Homo sapiens: one gene and its partner. The protein of the gene in region 2 interacts with the protein of the main gene of each other region in a pairwise test. Each region holds a gene or a part of one and is shown on either strand. Other genes may lie near its edges. The genes, in order: FAM124A and NKAP.

Evidence for each region.
Region 1: the proteins of NKAP (region 2) and FAM124A interact in a two-hybrid assay, tested with the Homo sapiens proteins (one large-scale study listed by BioGRID and IntAct).

What each region holds. Positions count from the first base shown.
Region 1 is NC_000013.11:51,249,875-51,253,694, reverse strand, and holds part of FAM124A (protein FAM124A), read right to left. Parts: intron 2,228-3,820; coding exon 1,494-2,227; coding exon of another isoform or gene 1,422-1,493; exon of another isoform or gene 81-1,421; intron 1-80.
Region 2 is NC_000023.11:119,937,106-119,940,925, forward strand, and holds part of NKAP (NF-kappa-B-activating protein), read right to left. Parts: intron 1,706-3,820; coding exon 1,625-1,705; intron 1-1,624. UniProt on the Homo sapiens protein: Acts as a transcriptional repressor. Plays a role as a transcriptional corepressor of the Notch-mediated signaling required for T-cell development. Also involved in the TNF and IL-1 induced NF-kappa-B activation.

The DNA of each region.
Region 1 (3,820 bases), on a different chromosome or scaffold from region 2:
TTTATCTTATTAGAAGGATCAGGAGAAAAAAGTGCTCTAATTACTGCAAAAAGGAAGAAGTCACCTCAGAAACAGTCACATTCTTTTTGGTCTTTTAGTATAAACAATATCCTTTGCATTTCATTAACTTTTACTTGGTGCAACTGTATTATATTTTGCATAAAGATGTGGCATTCTTCAAACACAGAGACAATTTTTCTCACATTTCAAAAGGGATTATAGAGCAAATGCTAGCATATTGAATAATAAAACATTACTTAGTTCCTTATCTGCACAGTTCAAAAGGAAGTTTCAAAATTATCTAGTTCCTATAAATAGTAAGTATCTCAAGGTGACCTTTCTGACGAGAAATGAGGCCTGGCTGTAGTCTGAACCAGTTATCTGACATGTGCCAAATTCTGACTTCATTTCATGATATGTGGATTATAGTTCTGGTGCTTAAAGCCAAAACCAACAAAAACGATGAAACTTTACCTGTGATTCAAGTAACCACAATCTTTGCCTCTTAAGGCAATGTCCCCCAATTCACTATCAACTTTCTCTTTTCGGGTAGCCAAGTGTGAAAATTGAGACGTCAGAGGTAGAGGCTTTTCAGAAAAACAAGGCCCTATACTCCTGGAACTAATTTACTTGTAAAATCAAGAAAGCCTGGGTCTGGAAAGCATTTCTCAGGTAGGACCAGATGTAGGATGTTCTGTAATATACATGCTGAATTTTGAATTGAGTATAACTAATTATCTCTAATGAGTCTGGGACAACCCCTGGAAGGATGAGAGGAGAAAGGGAGCTGATGATGAAGCTAAAGAGTTTACCATGGAAGGACTAGGGCAGCCTACTTAAAATGAATTCCTTCACCCCTTCCAAGCTTAGTGAAACCAGAAGCTCCCAAGGCATCACTTACTCCTTAAAATGTTTAACGGGACATCCTTTTCCAAGTGATCACAGGATTTCAACAACCTGCTGCCCAGCAGTAGAAGGATGCAAGAGTAGAAGGTGGGGGAGGCACCTGAAGGAAGAGAACAGCTATCTCCTCTATGAACATCAATATATATTTTAAAATTTCCAGATAGATGGGCTTTCCTGAAGTTCCTTTGTGGGAGGGAAGAATCCAGTGGTAAAAACTCTCTAAGTACATGGGCATAGATTCAGGAATCTTTAATAGCAAATTCCCTAGCTTATAAGCTCATTTGAAATCCCCAGGAGTCATGGGTGTTTAGTGGATGCCCAATAGGGGAGGACAGAAGGGGCAGCTGGAAGAATTGGGAACATGTTTGCTGAAAGTGAAATGAAGAGAACCAATGGGAAGAGTCTTTCTTGCCCCCTCTTTTGTTGGGATCCTGTATGGCCACTTTGACTTCGACTAGGAGCTGGGCAGAGGGTCACTGATCTCTCCTTCCTTGATCATTGCTCTGTGACTGGTACTATAGTGTTTGAGGCAAAGCTAACTGGTTTCTCAGGTCCCCTAAACAGACAGACAGGCGTCCCCCCAGTACCTGTAGGAGGATCTTGTTCCCATCATGGTCCTCCGTCTGCCAGCGCCCCTCGCTGATGGGGCTGCAAGGGTTGGGCAGGAGAGGCACGAGCTCGCCTATGTCCCTCACTCGGAACTCCAGCACGGAGGAGTCGGTGGGCACCGGGCACTGGTCACAGGGCAGTCTTTTCAGGGAGAACTGGATGTCCACATCCAGGTTGGAAAAAATAGGGAAGATGCAGAAGTCCGCTTTCTTCTGGCTGGGGCTCCTCCGGAGAATCAGCTGGTAGAACCTGAGGCTGTCAGCATAGTTGTCGTAGCGACAGTAGACGGTGAAGCGCACGATTTCCTTGCCGTAGTGCACGGGCCGGATGGCCCAAAGCGGCGTCCCAGGGGCCAGCGTGAAGAAGTCCTGGCTGCAGGGCAGGTAGGGCAGGAACCGGCCGTGCACCTGCTCGGTGTGGTGGTGGCGCCAGGGCGGCTGCTGCAGTGTGCGGTGCAGCTGCAGGATCTGCTCTTCGCCGTACTCCTCCTGCAGGAACAGCACCACAGCCAGCGCTGGCTGAGCGCCCTTGGGGGGCTTCCGCCGCCGCCGGGACGCCCGCCTCTCGGACACCCGGAACAGCGGGAGGTCGGGGTGGATCCACGCCAGGACGTTGTCGATGGCCTCCTGCAGGGGCTGGGACTCCCCTGGGTCTGCGATTATGTGGATGCTGACCAGGAAAGGGTCCTGCGCCTCTTCAACGGAAAGCTCACCTGGGGGCACGCAAAAAACGAATGGATGAATGAATACAATTATGATTATTTCATTAAAGTGTCCAGTGATGACGTGTACAGGCTTGACAGGAAGAGAAGTCAAATTCTAACTGAACTGACTCCATGACCTGTGATTTTCTGATCCCAAGTTTACCTATAAAAACTACTATGCCAGCACCTTAGCAGCCAAAGAGGAAAGGGCTGTTGCTACGTGAATAGTTTCTAAGCTGGACAGGGTGAGGAGAACCTTGGTCCTGTATTTCATCAGGTTGGTTGGTATAGGGAACATTTGACTTTATATTTACGTATCAGACAAATAGAAAGTCAAGTCTAGTGACTTGGAAGGAACAACAGGCCCATTAGAAAAGATGGCATAGCATCTTGTGGACACCATTTAGTATTTCCTGAAATAGCTGCAGGGCCTTGCCCCATACATGTTCCCTACACAAACGCACTCCTCTGGTTTGCTTATTTCATTTGTTTATTTTGTTAACACACACTCATGGGCTCCTTCCTACCTGCCTCACAGGGAGTGAGGCACAAGGCGAATGATGGAGGACAAGAGAGACCTGTGCTTGCCCCCTGGGGCTTACTCTATAGACAGGTCATGCCCTGGCTGTTGATGAGTCCTGCCCACAGTGTCCCCTATTGTGGGGTCCTGGCCAAGATCATGTTGCTGCTGGAGACACAGGGAAGGATGACCCCCAGAGCCAAGCACAGTGTTCTTGCTGTTGGAGCTTACTGGGGCTGAGGTTAGGGTGGAAGGAAAGCAGGGTGAGACCATGACTGCCCATGAAAGGCTACCTTTTGTGTCCCTTGCTGGGCCACATCCACTCAGAAGCCCACACAACTTGAATGGGTCGGTTACCCTCCCTGTGATCTCTGGCGGAACACCTGAAACTGTTGAATTCCAAGCATGAAGTTGACTGTTTAACTTGGCAACAGTTTCCCATGGGGTGACAGTTTTTTGGCCACACTTGGCATATTTCTAAATCATATAACTATACCTGATAAAAGGCTTGCTCTTTTAAAAGATGGTTCTATTTGCATTTATAGAAGTTTTAGGTCTCATTTAAGGGAATTGAGACATCTTTAGGCCAATTGTGATTTAGGGGGCTAGATTCACCTAGAATCTAGATCTGCCTTTACAAAACACATGCCTCACAGTGTCCACTAGGGGTGTCAGGCATACAGTGATCATGTGGTCAATTGTGTTCTATCAATGTGGTGTGCTTTTCAGAATCATAACCTTGATCAAGTCACAGGATGAAAATTTTTTTATGGTAGGTAGACATTCCAAGTGGGCTTACAAGTCCATTTCACCATGTACAGCTGCAATAACATGGTTTTAATTTAATCAGATCAAAACCCGTCTGAATTTTCTTCCCAACCCTATTAAGTGTCTCACTTGAAAACAGTCCAGCTTGCTGTCTTCTCTCTTATTCATGCATTCATTTGCACATCTGTTAAGCAATCAGTTTGTACCAGGCACTGGGGACACAAAGAAGCTGGCACTAATTATGTATGCCCAAGCACTATGGGAGTACATTTACGTATACTCTTGCATGATATGCTCCCTGAGAACTGTGCAGT
Region 2 (3,820 bases):
GCACGTAAAAGACAAATGGTAAAGCAGCAACTGTTCTGTCTCCTCAGAGCAAAAACCTAACAAACTACAGTCTAAAGAGATGTTGTTCTGTTGCAGAGAATTCTGAAAATGAGTATTATTCAAATTCTACAATAGTTTAGAAAAGGAGTTTCCACATCATATAATCTTTTCCTCTGAAGATCATACTTGGAGTAATTTAAATATTATCTAGAAAATTATTTTGGCTGGGTGCAGTGGCTCACGCCTGTAATCCCAGCACTTTGGGAGGCCGAGGTGGGCGGATCATGAGGTCAGGAGTTCAAGACCAGCCTGACCAACATGGTGAAACCCCATCTCTACTAAAAATACAAAAATTAGCCAGGCATGGTGGCATGCACCTGTAATCCCAGCTACTCGGGAGGCTGAGGCAGGAGAATCACTTGAACCTGGGAGGCGGAGGTTATGGTGAGCCAAGATCGCACCACTGCACTCCAGCTTGAGTGACAGAGTAAGACTCTGTCTCAAAAAAAAAAAAAAAAAAAAGAAGAAAGAAAACTATTTTTAGGGTTCCTTCCAACTCTAATTCAATACATTCAGGTTCTTCAAGTGTTTTCTTTTTTTTTTCTTTTAAATAGTCTTGTTATTTGCCCAGGCTGGTCTTGAACTCCCGGGCTCAAGGAATCCACCTGCCTTGGCCTCCCAAAGTGCTGTGATTACAGGCGTGAGCCACCGCACCTGGCCTCTTCAAGCATTTTCTAAAGGTATCTGTAAGAACAAGTTTCAGATAATAATGCTTTATTATCCAATCACAAATTACAGGTTTACCTGTCAAGCACATTGTCTCAACTCAACCTAAAGTTGGCACAGAAACAGAGAGGGAAGAAGAAACTTATGAGTAGCATCAAAGAGAAAAGAAATAAGCAAAAAGAAAAAGCATTAAGTCTGCAGATAGTATTGGATATAGGAATATTAACAAAACCATACTGGTATATTCGTTTTAAAAAATCTCTTTGTAGGCTGGGCGCAGTGGCTCACGCCTGTAATCCCAGCACTTTGGGAGGCTGAGGCAAGCGGATCACGAGGTCAGGAGCTCGAGACCAGCCTGGCCAACATGGTGAAACCGCCGTCTCTACTAAAAATACAAAAATTAGCCGGGCATGGTGGCAGGCACCTGTAATCCCAGCTACTCGGGAGGCTGAGGCAGGAGAATCGCTTGAACCCAGGAGGCGGAGGTTGCAGTGAGCTGAGACCGCACCATTGCACTCCAGCCTGGGCGACAGAGCAAGACTCCATCTCAAAAAAAAAAATCTCTTTGTAATGTTAATATCTGGCATGCAATCTGCCACTGAGTTTAGTTGAGAAAAAATAATTCAAAATAATGTGTATTATTTAACAATGAACCCTTCTATTAATAGGAAAATTATATTCCAGGAATTATTTTAGATTATGCTAAAACCTACTAGCAACATGTTTTAATCTTTAGATATGTTCTATGTTTTTAAAACTTAAGGGGTAGAAGAACATAAATCACAAGAAAGAAAAATGTGAGATATATTTAAAGTTCTTCACTTAAACATTTTCACAATAGATTCAGGATTTAAACACATATTATAACATTTTAAAAATATATTTTTTAACCACTTACTCTGGTTCAGGATTCTTTGGAGAAAGTCCCCATACTTCAGGAGCTCCCAATTCTCCAATTCTCTCTCTCTCACTTAATCTCCTAGCAGATAAAGACATGTAAATTATAACTCAATGGCTGAGTTGTTTCCTAAATATATAATCAAATTCAATAGGAGTCTAGTTAAGCCTTTTTTCCCTTTATATTTTAAACATGGATAAAAACTTGGTTTAAATGTAAACTCATCACTTAAGGTCTGATGTTCTGATGATACTATCAAATGGTACAGACTATAGAAATGATGGCCTGGGAGACTGTCAAGTGCATCCATTCTGCTGAATGCATGACACAGCTCTTAACTGCTCATTTCATCATCTGTAATATGTGACAGAAACAGCTTCACATTTGTAAGTAACTTCATTTGTTTACAGATTTATGAAAGGTGAAGAGAAGTCTCTTTTGATATGGTCAAACCTTCAGTTTTCAGAAATCGAGGAATTAATGAAGAAAATAAAAATGATGCATTAGACGTAGAAAACAACTGAAGTTCTGAAAATGAAAGAAAAGTTTTTATTTTATTTTATTATTTATTTTTTTAGATGGAGTCTCGCTCTGTCGCCCAGGCTGGAGTGCAGTAGCACGATCTTGGCTCACTGCAACCTCCGCCTCCTGGGTTCAAGTAATTCTCCTGCCTCAGCCTCCTTAGTAGCCGGGATTACAGGCATGCGCCATCACGCCTGGCTAATTTTTGTATTCTTAGTAGAGATGGGGTTTCATCGTGTTGGCCAGGCTGGTCTCAAACTCCTGACCTCAGGAGATCCACCTCAGTTGCTGGGATTACAGGCGTGAGCCACTGCACCGGGCCCGAAATAAAAGTTTTTTATTTTTTTGTAGAGATGAGGTCTTGCCGCCAGGTGCGGTGGCACATGCCTGTAATCCCAGCACTTTGGGAGGCTGAGGCGGGCGGATTGCTTGAGATCAGGAGGTCAAGACCAGCCTGGCCAACATGGTGAAACCCCGTCTCTAGTAAAAATACAAAAATTAGCCAGGCGTGGTGGCGCATGCCTGTAATCCTGGCTACTAGGGAGGCTGAGGCAGGAGAATCGCTTAAACCCAGGAGGTGGAAGTTTCAGTGAGCCAAGATCGCACCACTGCACTCTAACCTGGGAGACAGAGCGAGACTCCGTCTCAAAAAAAAAAAAGAGGTCTTGCTTTGTTGTCCAGGCTGATCTTGAACTCCTGGCCTCGAGCAATCCTCTTGCCTCAGCCTCCCAAAGCGTTGGGATCACAGGCATGAGCCACTGCACCTAGTCAAAAAGTTTCATTTAACAAAAAATATACTTGGGGCTGGGCGTGGTGGCTCACGCCTGTAATCCCAACACTTTGGGAGGCCGAGGCAGGTGGATCACCTGAGGTCAGGAGTTCAAGATCAGCCTGGCCAACATGGTAAAACCCTGTCTCTACTAAAAAAAATACAAAAATTAGCTGGACACGGTGGCATGTGCCTGTAGTCCCAGCTATTCAGAAGGCTGAGGCTGGAGAATCTCTTGAACCCTGGAGGTGGAGGTTGCAGTGAGCCAAGGTCACGCCACTGCACATGACAGCCTGGGTGATAGAGTGAGACTCTTATCTCAAAATAAAAAACCAAAAAAAAAAAAAAAAAAACTATACTCAATGAGATACAAGGTTTGTTCCCTCTCTGTTTTCCTTTTAGTTCCTTTTTGGAAAAGGAGTGCATTTTGTATCTATTCTTTGAAGGACACTAAAATTTGTTTCTTCTTTTGTTTTATGCCTATGGTTTCTTCTGTTTTAATTTTTGTTATTCCTCATAAACTAAAAAACAAAACAAAACAAAGACTAAGGCTCATTCTCTCAAATTTTAGCTGCTTGTGACTCCATTTGTTTTTAAAAATCCTTCCAAAATAAATATAATTGCAATGAGTTTTTGTATAAATCGTTTTTGCCTCCTTAATCAGGGGAAAAGGTATTATAACTATGCAGAGTCAGACTGAGAGGGTTTCCCACCTGAAGTAACAGACAATTTAAAAGGTAACATATTTATAGCTGTACTTGGAATGTATGGATATCGGGGGAAGAACGCCTACCAGGCTGTAAATAGCAGGAAGTCCTGTTGTCACCTGGTTTCATCTGTAATGTTAAGATAAATTATTGGCCGGGCCCAGCACTTTGGGAGGCTGAGGCTGGTGGATCACCTGA